Linked DNA regions of Homo sapiens. The protein of the gene in region 3 interacts with the protein of the main gene of each other region in a biochemical or structural test. Each region holds a gene or a part of one and is shown on either strand. Other genes may lie near its edges.

What was found. The genes of interacting proteins can lie anywhere in the genome.
Region 1: the proteins of MAPK8IP3 (region 3) and MAPK8IP2 form a complex in vitro, tested with the Homo sapiens proteins (one study listed by BioGRID).
Region 2: the proteins of MAPK8IP3 (region 3) and KLC1 form a complex in vitro, tested with the Homo sapiens proteins (one study listed by BioGRID).

The regions. Positions count from the first base shown.
Region 1 is NC_000022.11:50,610,758-50,614,478, forward strand, and holds the end of MAPK8IP2 (C-Jun-amino-terminal kinase-interacting protein 2), read left to right. Parts: coding exon 1-22; 3' UTR 23-3,221; downstream 3,222-3,721. UniProt on the Homo sapiens protein: The JNK-interacting protein (JIP) group of scaffold proteins selectively mediates JNK signaling by aggregating specific components of the MAPK cascade to form a functional JNK signaling module.
Region 2 is NC_000014.9:103,653,176-103,660,210, forward strand, and holds part of KLC1 (kinesin light chain 1), read left to right. Parts: intron 1-1,388; 5' UTR 1,389-1,389; coding exon 1,390-1,650; intron 1,651-4,370; coding exon 4,371-4,601; intron 4,602-7,035. UniProt on the Homo sapiens protein: Kinesin is a microtubule-associated force-producing protein that may play a role in organelle transport. The light chain may function in coupling of cargo to the heavy chain or in the modulation of its ATPase activity.
Region 3 is NC_000016.10:1,744,192-1,751,226, forward strand, and holds part of MAPK8IP3 (C-Jun-amino-terminal kinase-interacting protein 3), read left to right. Parts: exon of another isoform or gene 1-2,398; coding exon of another isoform or gene 2,399-2,665; intron 2,666-2,837; coding exon 2,838-3,084; intron 3,085-4,052; coding exon 4,053-4,155; intron 4,156-4,410; coding exon 4,411-4,529; intron 4,530-7,035.

The DNA of each region.
Region 1 (3,721 bases), on a different chromosome or scaffold from region 3:
GGAGGACATCTACCTGGAGTAGCCTGCCCACCGCTCTGTCTCCTGGCCGTCTGCTCCAGGCGCAGCTGGGGCTGAGGATGTCTCAAGAGGCCACCATGGCTTTGGCAAGGACTGGATTGGGGGGACATGGGACCTTACGCTTGTGGGGGTCTGCGGGCTGGGAACTCTCGTCCTCGGTCCCCAGGGCGCAGCTGTTGGGGCTGCGGGGGAGTGGAGCCCCCGTGCCCCTGCTTTTCCTCAGATCCGTTCTTTCTCTGTGTTGTCCTCCTCCTTCCCTTCCCAGTCTCCCTTTTCTCTCTCCTGGTGTCTCTGCCCCTCTCTGTGCCTGCAAACCTTATCCTCTATTCTTCACTTTGGGGTCAGAACTTCGGGGGTGTGGAGGAGGTGCGGCTCTAGGGACAGGTAATGTCGGCTTCCAAGTGATGCCCTCCTGCCACTCCCCTGCGATTTATAAGGGAATTTTAATTTTTATAGTGAATCTCAAGGGATCATCCCATCCTTGACCACAGGGACAAGAGGGGCCCCCTCGCCCCAGCCCCACCCCACATGGAGCTCAGGGGGAAGCAGGGAGGGGTTCCCAAAAGAGCCCTGCGGAGGCTAGGAGTGGTTCTTGATGCTCACCTGAAGCCCCTAGACGCTGCTAGGAGGGGGGGCCCTCCTGGGCCCCCAATACCCCTCCGCTTGCCGCTGCTAGCGCACCCCTGCAGTCCAGCGTGCATCCACCCCACGCACGCCCCGTGCTGTGTTCCTGGGCCCTGCCCATGGCCTCAATAAACTCTCTGCTTGGTGTGACATTGGCTGTTTCTAGAGGGTGCTAAGACATGGGGCCAGGTGCCCAGGGGCTGCCCATTGTGGTAGGGACAGAGTCCCCAGTGGCGGGAGTGTTGTGGCAATCTCACCCTTTTAGCTCTTTCCGAAATTGTGCCGGGGGTCCCTGCGGTGCTGCTCTGGGGCCTTATCTGAGGTGCCGTATCTAGAAGCACCCTTGGGAATTCTCCCTAGATACACTCGATTGGCCACAGAGGAATCCGAGGCTGTGCAATGGGGTGTCCTTTCCACGTGCACGGACTGGGGGCCAGCACGGCTCAGGTCAGTGTGTAGTGGGGGCATGAACTCCTTGAAGAACAATCTGGCCGGGCACGGTGGCTCACGCTTGTAATCCCAACACTTTGGGAGGCCGAGCCGGGGCGTATCACCTGAGGTCAGGAGTTTGAGACCAGCTTGGCCAACATGGTGAAACCCCATCTCCACAAAAAATACAAAAATTAGCTAGGTGTCCTGGCGCACACCTGTAATCCCAGCTACTCAGGAGGCTAAGGCATGAGAATCGCTTGAACCTGGGAGGCGGAGGTTGCAGTGAGCCAAGATTGCACCACTGCACTCCAGCCTGGGCGACAGAGGGAGACTCCGTCTCAGAAAAAGGAAAAGAAAAACAATCTACTTAGATCTTAAAATGGATATTTAAAAAATTCTCCAGAGAAAGCCAGAAGAAAATAGGTGACTTTTTCACTATGTGCTTAGGTGACTGCAGATGCCCGGCAATGTTCCCTCCCAGGCCCTCCTGGGTGAGCCCGCCTCCCAGGCAGGGGTCAGCATGGCCGGGGTCCCTCTGTCTGAGCCCAGGATTCGTGCAACACCAGGAAGACAACAGTTGAAGGTTCCTTAGTGAGCTAAGGGAAGTATACACAAACTTACTACATAAACATTAGAAAGTGCTGTCCGTAAAAAACACGTCTTCACAGAGCCAACAAGCAGAGAAATAGCTGCCCAGTGTTAGGAAGTGCATCATGATCCAGAGGTTCAGCCCGTGTGCAGCGCACAGACCTGAGGCCCCAGAGAGACCGAGGACGCAGACCAGTGGCACGACGGAAACGCAGAACGTTTATGAGAAAACTTTCCTACTAATTGAGATAAAGCTGTAAAGAGGCAGATAGCCCCACTGGGTGTGTACGTTTGAAACTTGTGCCCCCTGGGCTAGGGCATTCGGGGTGTGGCCCTCAGTCCCCTGTAGCTGCTGCCTGGAAACCGCTGCCACCCACCCACCTCCTCCCTCTGCTCTTCCACTCAGGTGAGAATTCTCCAAGCCCTGCCCTCCGGCGCCCCCGTCCCGCCCCTGCCCGGCCTGGCCCCGCCCCTGCCCGGCCCCGCCCCCCAACGTGTCTTCAGGTCTCTTTCCCTCCAGCCGGCCCTTAGGACGGCTGTTGGACGTGCTCGTGAGTCCTTCGCCTGTCTGCCTTCCACCTCTCTGCAGCTCCTTCTCCAATCTCATGGTCTTCTTGAGCTTGGCCGCCCTCCACGCCCCATGCTGGGCTTGGTCGGTTCTGGGGTCTACCTCTCTGGCTTCATCCCTCCCACAGTTTCGAGGGTTTCCCTGTGCTCAGGCCCCTGGCAGCCGCCCCCTGTGCAGACCACTGGGCAGATCCAGCTGACCTCCAGGGGCACTTCCTCGGCTCATCACTGGGCCGGTGCTCTGCAGAATGAGCTGTGAGAGCCACTGTGGCTGGCCAGAGGGTGCCACTCACAGTCACTTCAGACTCACAGGAGCCTTCGTCCCGACCCCTGCATTCATCTGTGTTCTGTTTTATGTTTTTTCCCAGTCACCTGAGCTGCAGGCCTTGGTCACCCCAGACTCCTCCCTCCTGTCACCCTTATCCTCACCCCAGCACCTTTACGTCTGCCCCAGGCTCCATTTCCCCCTCTTCTGCCTGGATCAAACCACCCTGACTTTCCTGGGTCTTCGTGCAACAGCCTGCTCCGGCCGCTGCCTCACTGCACCTGCAAATCCACTTGCACCCACACCCAGGCCAGGGTTTTTAAACAGAAGCCTCAGCAGATCCCTCTCTCTGGCCAGCTCCCTGTTGAACCAGGAAGCAGGTCCCTGTTGAACCTCAGCATGACCCGCCCCCACCCCTGCATCCCACTTCTGCTCTGGGAGCCTCTGGGTTCCTGGGCGCACCTGCTGCCCTTCCCTGTTTGTCACTGGGTGACCTCCCGTCCTTGTGGGCGCTCCCGGGCCCTGGTCTCGGGCCTTCTGAGGACTTGCTCTCCTGGTAGCGGCTGCTGACTGTGAGCCCAGAGAGCAGGCGTGGCTGTTGACCTTAGGTCCTCCCAGAACCTGGCGGATCGCCTGGCTCCCAGGCAGGAGGCGCTGCATGACGCCTCCAACTTCCGCCAATCTAGCCCAAGGATGGCGTTCTAAATAAAACGCGTTCTACAGAAAAGTGTTTATTGCATTCTTCTTTGAAATAATGTAAGCATAAAAGTAATCTGAATATTGACCAATAGGGTTAATTGATTAAGGTATATTTACCTAATTGAAATATTGGGTAGATGTGAAAAAAAGTTCCAATGTTTGTAATTACACAGAAAATTTCTGTTATGCTATTAAGTGGAAATAAATTTCTGGGCACAGCAGCTCATGCTACTGTGTAATCTTAGCAATTTGGGAGGCCAAGGTGGGCAGATCCCTTGAGTCTGGGAGTTCGAGACCAGCCTGAGCAACAAAGCGAAACCTCTATCTCTACAAAAAAAAAAAAAAAAAAATACAAAAATTATCTAGGTGTGGTGGCACACACCTGTAGTCCCAGTTACTTGGGTGGGTAAGGGAGGAGGATAGCTTGAGCCTAGGAGGTTGAGGCTGCAGTGAGCCATGATCATGCCACCACACTCTGGCTGGAAAGAGCAAGACCCTGTAACCACAATGAAAGAAAAGAAGAGAGAG
Region 2 (7,035 bases), on a different chromosome or scaffold from region 3:
CTCCGTCACCCAGGCTAGAGTGCAGAGGTACCATCATAGCTGACTGTCACCTCAAATTCCTGGACTCAAGCGATCCTTGTGCCTCACTGAGCCTCCTGGGTAGCAAGGAATACCTGCACATACCACCCAGCTAATTTTACTTCATTTATTTTTATTTATTTATTTAGGCAGAGTCTCGCTCTGTCACCCAGGCTGGAGTGCAGTAGTGAGATCTTGGCTCACTGCAACCTCTGCCTCCCGGGCTCAAGTGATTCTCGTGCCTCAGCCCCCTGAGTAGCTGGGACCACAGGCGTGTGCCAGCACACTCACCTAATTTTTGTATTTTTAGTTGAGACAGGGTTTCGCCGTGTTGGCCGGCTGGTTTTGAACTCCTGCCATCAAGTGATCCGCCTGCCTTGGCCTCCCAAAGTGCTGGAATTATAGGAATGAGCCACCATGCCTGGCTGTCCTGCCTTTTTAAATAAGAGCTTATATTCAAGGTGACATTAGACACTTAATGAATCGTGAGATTTTAGACAGTGGCAGTGCTGTGAAGGAAATAACTCTGACGTGTAATCTTGCCTCCATCCCTGTCACTGTGCCGAAAAAGATCACTGCTCACTATCTTTCTGTTTTTTAAACTTAACTATGGGTTTTTAAGACTTAGAAAAAAGGAGAGAGGCTAGCAGAGGGAACCATTGCTCAGTGACAGCGGCTGTCAGGCACAACAGCACAAATGATGCTGTTTTTATATTCCCCTTTCCTCCCCCTTTTCTTTCTCACTTTGGTGTTTGAAAGCCCCTTCCAGACATTGCATCACATCACCCTGGGCCTGGCCCTGGTGGTGCTTCGCTGTGCCATCCTCATCTGTGAGCCTGCCCGGTGACCGTGCTGCACCTGTCCTTGATGCCCTGTGTCTTCCAGGTCTGCTCCTCCCCTGCTGCTCTTCCTGTTCCATGTTCTTTGGCTGGTTTTTCTTTCTTCTTCCAGCTGTGTGACTCCTTTTCAAGCCTTTGTCCAGTTAAACATTTTACCAAGAATGTAGTGTTCTTCCTGCATTTCATTAGGAAGAGAAAAAGGCTTGCAAACATTCTGAGAAAAAATGTTGTTCACCGAGGCTATGTGTTTTGGAAATGCCATTTAGATGTTTTGCTGCTTTTAATCTTTGGCATTAATTTCAGTTGCTGTCATAAAAAAGAATTAAGACATAAACCAGAAAAGTAATTAAATGTGTCTGCAAAGGAAAAACAGAAACTGCAGAATATGGTATTTCAAGGTCATAAATTACAAATGTGCATATTTATTATTCCCCTATAAAATGTTAATTAAAAAATTTTCATATTTACTTGATGTAACAGAAATGAAACCTGTAATGAGGGATCTAATTTCTTTTTCTTTTTTCATTCCAGAATGTATGACAACATGTCCACAATGGTGTACATAAAGGAAGACAAGTTGGAGAAGCTTACACAGGATGAAATTATTTCTAAGACAAAGCAAGTAATTCAGGGGCTGGAAGCTTTGAAGAATGAGCACAATTCCATTTTACAAAGTTTGCTGGAGACACTGAAGTGTTTGAAGAAAGATGATGAAAGTAATTTGGTGGAGGAGAAATCAAACATGATCCGGAAGTCACTGGAGATGTTGGAGCTCGGCCTGAGTGAGGCACAGGTACGAGTGAGAATGACTCAGACGTTATCAGGAACTTTTGATGGTAAAATGGAGACTTGTTTGAAATAAGCAGTTTCACTAAAGAAGAGGAAAGATGATTATAGAATAACAGATCCAGGCCGAGTGCGGTGTGGCTCAGGCCTGTAATCCAAGCACTTTGGGAGGCTGAGGCAGGTGGATCACTTGAGGTCAGGAGTTTGAGACCAGCCTGGCCAACATAGCGAAACCCTGACTCTACTAAAAATACAAAAATTAGCCGGGCCTGGTGGCTGGCGTGTGTAATCCAGCTACTAGGCAGGCTTGAGGCAGGAGAATCACTTGAACCTGGGAGGCAGAGGTTGCAGGGAGCCAAAATTGCATCACTGCACTCCAGCCTGGGTGACAGAGCGAGACTTTTTCTCAAAGAAAAAACAAAACAAAACAGATCATGTGTTCTGTATGTTAATAAATTACTATTGATTTGGGCCTATCAGAATTGTATTGATTGATTGATTGAGATGGAGTTTTGCTCTTGCTGCCCAGGCTGGAGTGCAGTGATGCAGTCTCGGCTCACTGCATCCTCTGCCTCCTGGGCTCAAATGATTCTCCTGCCTCAGCCTCCCAAGTAGCTGGGATTACAGGCATGGGCCACCACACCTGGCTAATTTTGTATTTTTAGTAGAGACAGGGTTTCTCCATGTTGGTTAGGCTGGTCTTGAACTCCCAACCTCACGTGATCCACCTGCCTCAGCAAAGTGTTGGGATTACAGGCGCGAGCCACCATGCCCGGCCTCTGAATTTTATTTTTATTTTTATTTTTTTGAGACAGTGTTTGCTCTCGCCGCCCAGGCTGGAGTGCAATGGCTCAATCTCAGATCACTGCAACCTCTGTCCCCCGGGTTCAAGTGATTCTCCTGCCTCAGCCTCCCAAGTAGCTGGGATTACAGGCACATACCACCATTCCTGGCTAATTTTTTGTATTTTTAGTAGAAACTAAAATGTTGGCCAGGCTGGTCTTGAACTCCTGACCTCAGGGCCTCTCTGAATTTTGAAAAGCGGATCCAAAATAGTGGATACTGCTGTGTATCATTTAGGATTTGATTTGGCTGCCAGTATCAAAAAAACAAAAACAGTGGCTTAAACCACAAGATGTTTGTCAAATAAGTACTGAGGTACACTCTCCTGGACGGGTTCTGTAGCTACACAGTCATCGGGGATACTCAGGTTCCTAACATCTGCCACACTGCACCTTGGCAGCCTGTCTTGGGGACTGAGAGTGAGCTCCATGTGGCCCTGTTCTAGCATAGGGGAAGGGAAAGGAAGGACGTGCCTCCTTCCTTGAAGGCTGCTGCTTTGATGATGTGTACAGCAGTGCTTACATTGCATTGGCCAGACCTTATGGCTGTACCTGGGTGAGTGGGAGACTGGGGAATGTTGTCTTCCCACTTACAGTGGCAGGTCCTTAAGCCTAAGGAAGGAGAATGGACACTGGCCAGTGGGTGATGGTCTCTGCAATCCCAGGGCCAGATTGCTTCATATCTTTGACTAACCTTTGTTTCTATAATATCATGCTTGACATAGAGATGAAAACACTGGAAACATCTAGGTTTTTAAATACTCTCTCCTGATAACTTCTGGCTCTGTCAGCATATCTTAGGTAAAATTAAATATACCAAAGCTTTGCTTCTTTCTTAGCATTCTCTAGTTTAGTGAGTGAATAGAGCAGAAGAGGGGCTGCTGGCCAGCGGTTTCTGCTTTCATAGAGGAAGTGACTGCCCACACCCTGATTTTAGAGTCTTCATCCTAACCATGTTACAGCCTTGAGTTGCAGAACTGTAGCTCTGTTTGGATATTGTGAACGTATTATTTCTCAAGTTCTGTTACCTTGAGAACAGGTGACATGAATTTAAACTTGCTTTTTTGGTGTCGCAGATAAGAGTTTTAAAAAAAGAAGGAAGAAAAGGTCCCACCTTCTGGAGTTTCAGGTTTTAAACCTAGGAGGATAATAACCTGGTTATTATGTTATGAGAGGGATGGGCAGATGTATGTTCTAAAGAGAGAACAGATTGCTGCCAGCCAGCTCCTAGCTGTTTGTGCTCTTATGCTCCTAGGAACTTGCCACAGCCTCACGCTGGTCTGTTCCAGAAACCAGTGAGCACTCTGTAGGCAGAGCCCTGGAGTGGCCCCTGGATTTTATGACATAAACATAAGCTTATGAGTGCACCAGTGCATTCTTACTCTTGGTGGTAGCTACAGAGATGTCTTCTCTCACCTTGGAACATCAAGGAAGATTTGTATGTGCACTGTTCTCTGACCCCCACTTGCAGCCCTTCACCAACATGCACTCTGTGCGCAGACATGCATGTGTGTACACGAGGTCTTACACATGGGAAAGGGTCTATAAAAAATTATGTTGGGCCCATCTTGATAGAAAGTAAAATAATACAGTTTCATCAGAAGGGTAGCTGTGTTTTCATTGCTAGTTCATTTGGCATGCTCTTCAAAAAAATAAGTATTTTTTTGTAGGCATTCTGAGCGTGTGATATTCTTTATCATACCCTGCTTTGTAGTCTGTGGCTGAAGGGGAAAAGAGAAGTAAATGGCAGATTGTACTTATATGTACTTTGGAGAAAATATCTGCGAGTGTAAGCTACAGCCCCAGCCACAGAATGTTCGCACGGGTGGGAGGGACTCTTGCTGGACAACGTGCCACAGTGCTGCACACGTTTCTGTCTGCTCAGGTTATGATGGCTTTGTCAAATCACCTGAATGCTGTGGAGTCCGAGAAGCAGAAACTGCGTGCGCAGGTTCGTCGTCTGTGCCAGGAGAATCAGTGGCTACGGGATGAACTGGCCAACACGCAGCAGAAACTGCAGAAGAGTGAGCAGTCTGTGGCTCAACTGGAGGAGGAGAAGAAGCATCTGGAGTTTATGAATCAGCTAAAAAAATATGATGACGACATTTCCCCATCCGTGAGTGGCTCTGTAGCAAATGTGGTGCTAATGTTTAAAATGGAGTCACTGGGAAAGTCATAGAGGTTCTGTTTGCCATATTCTTTTCATATTAGAACATATTAGAACATTAGAACATGCAAAAATGTTTTGTAAATATAAGCCACAATCCAGAGAGACACCATTACCTTCAACAAGGTCTGCCCCGAGGTCTGTCCCGAGGTCTGCCCCAGCTTAGGCTCTGGAGCTTCCTTGCCCCTCTGTAGCTTGGCTTCCATGCCATCAGCTGCTGGTCTAGCAGTGGTCCAATCTGGCCGTCTGAATTTGGACTCTGGGCAACCTCTCTGCCCCTTAGGGTGGGTGCTCTTGGCATTGCCATTCTCTTTGAAACTCCCCTGGCCCTCTGGACACCACCTGGCTCTCTTGCCGCCTCTCTCATCCTCCCCTTGGCTTCCCTTGCCAGCTTATCTTTCTGTATCTGCAGGGGAAGAAACGATCTTGGTTTTCTTCTTCTTCTTTTTTTTACAAGGAGTCTCGCTCTGTCACTCAGGCTGGAGTGCAATGGCACAATCTTGGCTTACTGCAACCTCCATCTCCCGGGTTCATGTGATTCTCCTGCCTCAGCCTCTGGAGTAGCTGGGATTACAGGTGTGTGACACCATGCCCAGCTAAGTTTTTTTTTTTTTTTTTTTTTTTTTTAGTAGAGATGAGGTTTCACTGTTTTGGCCAGGCTGGTCTTGAACTCCTGGCCTCAAGTGATCTGCCCACCTCAGCCTCCCAAAGTGCTGGTATTCCAGGTGGGAGCCACCATGCCCAGCCTTCTTTCTCTGTTGGCTCTATTTGGATGTTTATCCTAGTCTCAGTTATTTTTCATTCAACATTTATTTCTGATTCAGTTAACTTTTTTTTTTTTTTTTTTTGAGATGGAGTCTCACTCTGTCACCCAGGCTGGAGTGCAGTGGCACGATCTTGGCTCACTGCAACCTCCACCTCCCGGGCTCCAGCGATTCTCCTGCCTCAGCCTCCCGAGTAGCTGGGACTACAGGTGTGTGCCACCACGCCTGGCCAATTTTTTGTATTTTTAGTAGAGATAGGGTTTCATTGCGTTAGCCAGGATGGTCTTGATCTCCTGACCTTGTGATCTGCCTGCCTCGGCCTCCCAAAGTGCTGGGATTACAGGTGTGAGCCACTGCGCCCAGCCAGTTAACTTCTTTTTATTTTTTTTTTTACTTTTTTTTTGAGACGAAGTCTCGCTTTTGTACCCCAGGCTGGAGTGCAATGGCGCGATCTTGGCTCACTGCAGCCTCCACCTCCTGGGTTCAAGCGATTCTCCCTTCTCAGCCTTCCAAGTAGCTGGGATTACAGGTGCGTACCGCCACGACTGGCTAATTTTTGTATTTTAAGTAGAGATGGGGTTTCACCATGTTGGCCACTCCTGACCTCAGGTCATCCCCCCGCCTCGGCCTCCCAAAGTGCTGGGATTACAGGCGTGAGCCACCACGACCGGCTTCAGTTAACTTCTTTTTAAAGAAAATTTCTAAATTTTGGAATTATTTTATTTTACTTATTTTTAATTTTAAAAATTTTACCCTCCTCTCAAGTTTCCAATGGAATAATTTTAAATTGATTGAAAAGTTGAAAAGTTAGAGAAGAAAATTGATGTGCCCATAACCCAGTCTCCCCTGATCGTCCATAATCATAGAACAGTGGTCAGAACTAAGATATTAACATCAACACTTTACTGTTAACTGAAACACAGACTTGGTTGGATGTCACCAGGCCTTCCACTAGTATCTCTTTTCTGTGCTAGGACCTAGTCCAGTGTTCCACATTGCATTTGGAACTAACGTTTTTTAAATACCTGTATGATGCCAGACATGTTCATGTACATAATCAGAATACTAGAGAGGTGCACATTTGTGTGTCTCGTTCGAATCCCCATCCTAAGACTACTGAAACAGTTTTTTGCGTAGCACCAGCAAACCTGCATTTCCCCTCTGTCTTCATCTGCTTGGGCTACTGTAACAAATACCACGGGCTGGATGGCTTAACATTTATTTTCTCATAGTTCTGGAAGTCCGAGATCAGGGTACCAGCAGGGTCCGGTTCTGGGGAGGGCCTTCTTTCTGGCTTGCAGACTGCTGCCATCTCTTTGTGTTCTCATATGGTACAGAGAGAGAGGGAGTAAGCTCTCTGGTGTCTCTTTTTATGAGGGCACTAATCCCATCATGAGGGCCCCACACTTTCGAGCTCATCTTATCCTGATCACCTCCCAAAGGTTTCATCTCTAAATACCATTACACTGGGGGTTAGGGCTTTAACATAGGAATTTGGGGAGAACACAGTTTAGTTGACAGCATGCTATTTCAAAAGGCTTACCAAAATCCTCCCTCACATCTCCTCTAGGTTAGGGGCCAACTAAATGTTTTGATTTAAAAGATGTGGCTGGGCGCAG
Region 3 (7,035 bases):
AAGGACAGCCACCTTCCTGGGAAGAAGAGGTGACCCCGGGTCTGGTGGATTTCCCACAGGGGCCGTCAGAGGATGTCCACAGAGGCAGAGCCCTTGGGGCCTGTGGGCTGGGTTGGGCTGGTGGATGTGGGGCCTGGGACTTCTCCAGAAGCTTACTTCCTGCTGCATGCTTTGCCGACTGTCCTTCCACCTCTAAGTGTCCATCGTGCCTGTGGGGGCTGCTGCAGGCTCCTGCTCCGTCAGCCCACCTGCTGCTGCGCTGCTCTGGGAGCGAGCTCCCTCATGGCATCTGGAACGCTCTCCTGTCCTCCCTGTGCTCAGGGCTGGAGAGAGGGTGGCGGGGCTGCGGGCTCCCCGGGCCTTCTGGGCCCAGCCCTGCCACCTGGGCCCACCTCCTCTCACTGTCTCTGGCTCACGCTTCCCGGGCCTGGAGCTGGGACCTGCCCATAGGCATCTGAAGACACGTCAGCCTCAGCCGGGGGGAGCCCTTGCTTGACGCTCTCTGGCCTCCGGGCTGCCTCTCGCGCCCGCTCTGGGCCCGCTCTTCTTCTCATGATGTCTTTCCTTTCACCTCCTGCGTTGTCTGACATCGTCGCTCTCTTCATAAATTGTAGCGTTTTATGTTTTCGTTCATAGGAGTGTTTTATTTGATTTTTCTTTATTTTAAATTATTACATTTAAGTTCTTTTTATTTTATGCTCTAGGTTTTGAAGTTTTTCTAATTTCTTAATTTTTTTGTTGTTTTTTGTTTTGTTTTGTTTTTGTTTTTATGTACTGTATTTTCAGTGTTTTAACCAAACAGTTGTGGCTACTCATGGTGAGGAATGACCGCTAAGAGTTTGGGTTCTTTCAGTGCATTTGGAGGTCACTGCTACACGTTGATGTTTAGGAGGTTGAGAGGTTTGCCTTTAGGTAAGTTGTGGCCAGGGGGAGTGTCCCATGGGTAAGTGGTGGCCCTGTAGGGTGACGGAGAGCTAGGGGAGGCGCAATCAGACTGCAGAATTCCCCGCAGCCACCATGAGGGTCAGGAGCAGGCCGGGGACCCAGCGTGGAGGAAGGTGGCCCAGAAGCGTTTGTCTGATGTGCACAGCTACACCCTGCCTGGCCACATGGGGTTCCCTGTTTTCTCTCTGCCGGGTGGTGGCAGAGTCGGTGAGACACCAGGTGCCTGTGACACATTGGGTAGACAGGTTCTTTGAGAACGTCAGCACAGACTTCTTGCATGAGCGGTACTCGCTTCCTCCAGCGTGGGGAGTGACATGAAGAGCAAGGGTTTTCCTTTCAAACTGGGCATAGCTGCAGAGCCACAGGCCGTCTCAGACATTTCTACAAAGCCACTCCGGGAGGCGGGCTGCGCCCGTGTGAGGGCTCTCCCTCGGCACTGCTCATCTTTTGGGGCTGGACATGCATGGCCTGGGCCGCTGGGACGCGGTGGGTGTGGAGCAGCATCCCTGGCTTCCACCCACGAAAGCCAGGAGCACCCCCTTCATTTGTGACCACAAAAATGTCTCTGGACTTTGCAAGCATCCCCTCGGGGCAGTCAGCCCAACTGAGAATAGCTACTATAGAGGAAGGTGTGTCATTTTGAGATTCCTTCTAGAGAAACTTAGGAGCCTGGTAGATGAAGCAGAAATGTGTCCTCTGAGTGAGTGGCCGTGTCCGGTACTGAGAGGCCCCGTGCCCTGAGTCTGGCGGTGACCAGAGAGGCTGGGCAGAGGCAGAGGTCAGCACTGGCCATGACTTCTGGAAGTCCCGTCTGCCCTGGTCACTTAAAGGCCAGTATAAGTCAGCTGTGGAGAGGGCTGGATACCCCCTCGACAGCTCCTCCCTGGGTGAGATCCTTAGCATTAGAGTCCCCCACGGTGCGCCCTCTGAGAGACCACGGGAACCCACCCAGCGGCTGCCTGGGACAGGCACAGGAGCCACCTGGGTGCCTCTGAGGCCTTGCACTTTCCCACACCTCAAGGAGGGCCGGGGGCCACGGGCAAGCTCTGCCATAGCGGGTGATCAGGTCAGCTAAGACGAGAACGTTTGGGGCTCTTTTTCTCCAGCTGGTTCAGTATCTTTGTTAGGAAAGACCATTGGAAAGAATGTTTGTTTCGCATTCCGCATTAGTCACATAGAATGCGCTCCTCCCTAGCGAGCTTCCTGAGGTAGACGGCTGGTTGCGGTTTCTCGTAATCCGGGCTGCCCCCACCCTCCAGAATGTCTTGGTGGCGTCCCTTTCTGTGAGCAGGGATTGTGGTTTCTTTGCGCTTGCTCATGTTCAGGGGTGAGCTCTGGTCCAGTCAAGCCACAGGGTCAGCACCTTCTGGTCACTCCCTGGCCCTGACCTGAGCCCGGGGAGGAACGTGGGGCAGGCGCGGGTGGGCCCAGCCTCGAGCTCTTCAGCACAGTGATGGTGACGGGGCAGCGGTGGCGGCACAGCCAGCCCTTCTTGGGTCCCCAGTCAGAGCCCTCTGCCCTACCTGGGCTGGACTTGTTTCTGAACAGCCACAAGCTACAGGGGGCTGCCGCTGTGTCCCTGGCGAGGCACTGGCCCATTACAAGCAATCGTCTGGGGAGGGCACCAGTGGAAAGCCCCGTTCCAAGCCATTTCAGGAGGGTGGCCCTGCTTCCGAGGAGCCGGAGTCAGTGGCCGGATAAGCAGAGCCACTCGGGAGTGGTGAGGCCCGGAAGGGTTAGCCCGGTGGGCGGCAGAGGAGCTCTGGCCCGCAGGGTGTCGGGCGAGGCAAAGTGCAAAGCATTGGTGCGCGGGGCCTCAGGCAGCCACGGCGGAGCCGCAGGCCAGGGACCTGCAGTGACTCGCTCTCCCTCCTCCCTGTGTTTGGCCTTAGTGTCCACAGGATGAAATGTCCGAGTCAGGCCAGTCCTCGGCGGCCGCCACACCCAGCACCACAGGCACCAAGTCCAACACGCCCACATCCTCCGTGCCCTCGGCCGCCGTCACACCCCTCAACGAGAGCCTGCAGCCCCTGGGGGACTATGGCGTGGGCTCCAAGAACAGCAAGCGTGCCCGGGAGAAGCGCGACAGCCGCAACATGGAAGTACAGGTCACCCAGGAGATGCGCAACGTCAGTATAGGTGGGTGCCCACCTCCGGGACTCTGGGCTCCCTCGGGCAGGAGGCAGGGCTTGGTTTGGGTAGATGTGAAACTAATGCACCAGGCGGGCAGTGCAGGCAGCAGAGACGTGTTCCTCACAGCCCGGAGGCTGGGGTCCAAGATCAAGGCGCTGGCAGGGTAGGTTCCTCCTGCGGCCACTCCTTGGCTTGTAGACACCACCTTCTCCCTGTGTCCTCAACAGGCATCCCCTGGGTGTGTCTGTGTCCTCATCTCCAGCTCCTACAAGGACATAGCCCCATTGGATTAGAGCCACCACGTGACCTCATTTTACCATAATCACCTCTTGAAAGGCCCAGCCTCCAAATACAGTCATGCTAGGGGGTATCTATTAACATATGGATTTGGGGAGACACAACTAAGGCAGTAGCCTGCGTCACCCCACGGCACACAGCCCCACTAACCAGTAACCTGCATCGCCCCACGGCACACAGCCCCACTAACCAGTAACCTGCATCGCCCCACGGCACACAGCCCCACTAACCAGTAACCTGCATCGCCCCACGGCACACAGTCCCACTAACCAGTAGCCTACGTCACCCCATGGCACACAGCCCCACTAACCAGTAACCTGCGTTGCCCCACGGCACACAGGCCAGTGAGGGAAAGAGAAGAGGGGAATGAGGGCCGAGAGGAGGTCCAGCCACTGGCTTGCTTGGACGTGGGATCTCTGGGGACTGGGCTTACTGCTGACACTCCCATGCAGAGAGGCTGCTGCAACCCACCCCGCTCCAGGCCCCGCCTCAGACGTCTACTGTGCTGGGGTTCGACCTCTGCCCAGTCAGCCTGGGAAGAGCTGTTTTCTGATCATCCCCACCTAGCAGGTGGTCCAGCTCCAGCCCACCAGACTCAGGTTCCGAGGGCAGCCGTGAGCAGGGCAGAGGCTGCCAGACCCTCTCCTGACCCCAGGTGCCCCTGTGCTCTCCCCTAGGCATGGGCAGCAGTGACGAGTGGTCTGATGTTCAAGACATTATTGACTCCACGCCAGAGCTGGACATGTGTCCAGAGACCCGCCTGGACCGCACAGGAAGCAGGTACTGGCTCAGCCCAGGCCCTGGGGTCCTGGGGGCTCAGTATTTATCCAAGTCGGTGTCTTTGGTGAAGTCTTCCTCTGCCACCACTGGGAGAACCATCAAGGCTGTGGCCTACCGCCTCCATCCACGACCGGCCTGCAGGGCAGTGTGGGCATTGAATGGCCACGGTGGGAGGTGTTGGAAGAGTCTGCAGACGCAGCCACTCCGGGCTGCCCACTGACTCTGCTCTCTCTCCCGACCTGTGGATCCCAACAGCCCAACCCAGGGCATCGTGAACAAAGCTTTCGGCATCAACACCGACTCCCTGTACCATGAGCTGTCGACGGCAGGGTCTGAGGTCATCGGGGATGTGGACGAAGGGGCCGACCTCCTAGGTAAGCGCAAGCCTTCCCCCGCACCGCTGTGCCTGCACAATGCTGGGGCTTTCTGCTGTTGGTTTTGTTTGTAATGAAAGGAAAGTCCTCTGTCAGCTGTGAGCTAGGAACCTTTTTTTTTCCAGCTTTGTTGAGTTGCGTTTCACATGGAATTGTCCCTCCATCTCCACAGGGGATTGGTTTCTGGACTGCCCCAAGGATGCCAAAATCTGAGGCTTCTCAAGTCCCTGCTCTGAAGTGGTGTAGTGTTTGCACCCTCCCGTGTACTCTAAATCACCTCTAGGTTATGTTGTAGATGCTGTGTAAGTAGTTGCTGTTATGCTGTGTCGTTTAGGGAATAATGACAGGAAAAAAGTGTACACGTCAGTACAGACACGGCCACCACAGGCCTGTACATTTTCTGTGAGGCTGGTTGAATCCACACATGCAGAACTCGTGGGTATTGAGGGTCGACTGTATCATAAAATTCACCCGCTTCGAGTGCACGGTGCGGTGGGTTACAGCGTACTCACAGGTGGGGCAGCCACCCCCATGATCTCAGTTTAGAATGTTCCGCCATCCCTAAAAGAAATCCATGCCTGTTAGCCTCGCCCCATCTTCTGCACACACCCTCAGGGCTGCCAACTCTCCAGGAGGTTGGGAGGGTGCCCGCTTCTCTGCTCTGTGCCCATTAGCCTCGCCGCACACCCTAGGACCATTGACTTTGGAGGAGGTTGGGAGGGTGCCCACTTGCCCACTCCTCCGCAGACAGCCCTGGCTTCACCTCAGCGCCACAGGTCTACACCGGACCCCTGTGCCTAGGTCTGTGGCGGCTGCAAACATCAGGACCTGCTTCCTGTCAGCACGTGGAGTCTCCTGTGCTCATGGCATCTGCTGGCAGCTGAGCACTGGCCATGTGGCTCTGAGCCCCAGGCTTTCAGGCATGACAGGCGGGCAGTAGGACAGCGCAGTCTGTCCCCTTGCACGCGTCAGGGTCCGAGCCTTTCGCCATGGCCTTGCTTCCCCCAGCCCGCAGGGTGAGAAGCTCCTGGATCCCAGGCTGCCTCCTGGTGTACTCCTGAGCTGATTGTCTTATCTGGGGCAGGGGGACCTCCAGGGAGCAGAGTAATGTGGGGTGCTGAGCACCAGCAGGGCCTCACCCTGACAGGGAGGCCTGTCTCATCCTGGCTTGAGTCAGAAAGTGCCCCAGTAGAGGCCATGTATGAGTAACATAATATTCACCATGTTAACCGAGTTGAAGTGTTCAGTTCAGTAGTGTTGGACACACTGTACTTGGTGGTGAAAGATGGAATGCTCCCCGAGATCAGGACGGCGGTGAGGGCGCACTTTGGTGCTGTGAATTTTCTGTGGAACTTTTCTCATGTGTTGCAAAAATATATATAAAAAATCCAAAGGAGATTAATCTTCAGAAAAATCCTGCTAAATAGGGGTAATCTCTTTTAATATTTTGCTATCCTTCCACTCTACATAATTCAGATAATGTTTATTTATTTATTTATTTATTTATTTCTTAGACAAAGTCCCGCTCTGTCGCCAGGCTGGAATGCAGTGGCGCCATCTTGGCTCACTGCAACCTCCGCCTCCCAGGTTCAAGCAATTCTCCTGTCTCCGCCTCCCAAGTAGCTGGAATTAGAGGCACGCGCCACCACGCCCGGCTAATTTTTGTATTTTTAGTGCAGACGGGGTTTCACAATATTTGCCAGGCTGGTCTTGAACTCCTGACCTCCGGTGATCCACCCGCCTCAGGCTCCCAAAGTACTGGGATTACAAGTGTGAGCCACCATGCCCGGCCGATAATGTATATTTTTTAGCTATTTTTTTTATTTTTTGAAAAAATTATATATGCTTATAATAATATTTAAATAATATCAGCAAATGCCAAGAAGAGAGTAAAAACCAGAGGGAACCTCCCCACCATGCTATAATGATTTTTTTTTTTTTTGAGACGGAGTCCCACTTTGTGGGCCAGGCTGGAGTGCAGTGGTGCGATCTCGGCTCACTGCAACCTCTGCCTTCCCGGGTTGAAGCAATTCTCCTGCCTCAGCCTCGTGAGTAGCTGTGATTACAGGCATGCACCACCATGCCCAGGTAATTTTTGTATTTTTAGTAGAGATGGGGTTTCACAGTGTTGGTCAGGCTGGTTTTGATCTCCTGACCTTGTGATCCACCCGCCTCGGCCTCCCAGAGTGCTGGGATTACAGGCGTGAGCCACCACTCCTGGCCGATTGTTTTAATGTCTTGGTGACACCTACCAGACACCATGGCCCATGGCCCACAGAGGTATGACACATGTGTACGCAGAACACACAGTGTCAGGTCGCAGCTGCCCTTCTCATTGTGGGCGGTGTCATTTCCGTGGGTGGCAGCACTGACGGGCACGGCCACCGTCGGTCCTTACTGCAGCATCAAGCCGCCCTCCTGCCAGTGTCCCCATTTATAGATGAAGAAACTGAGGCCGGGCACAGTGGCTCATGCCCGTAATCCCAGCACTTTGGGAGGCCGAGGC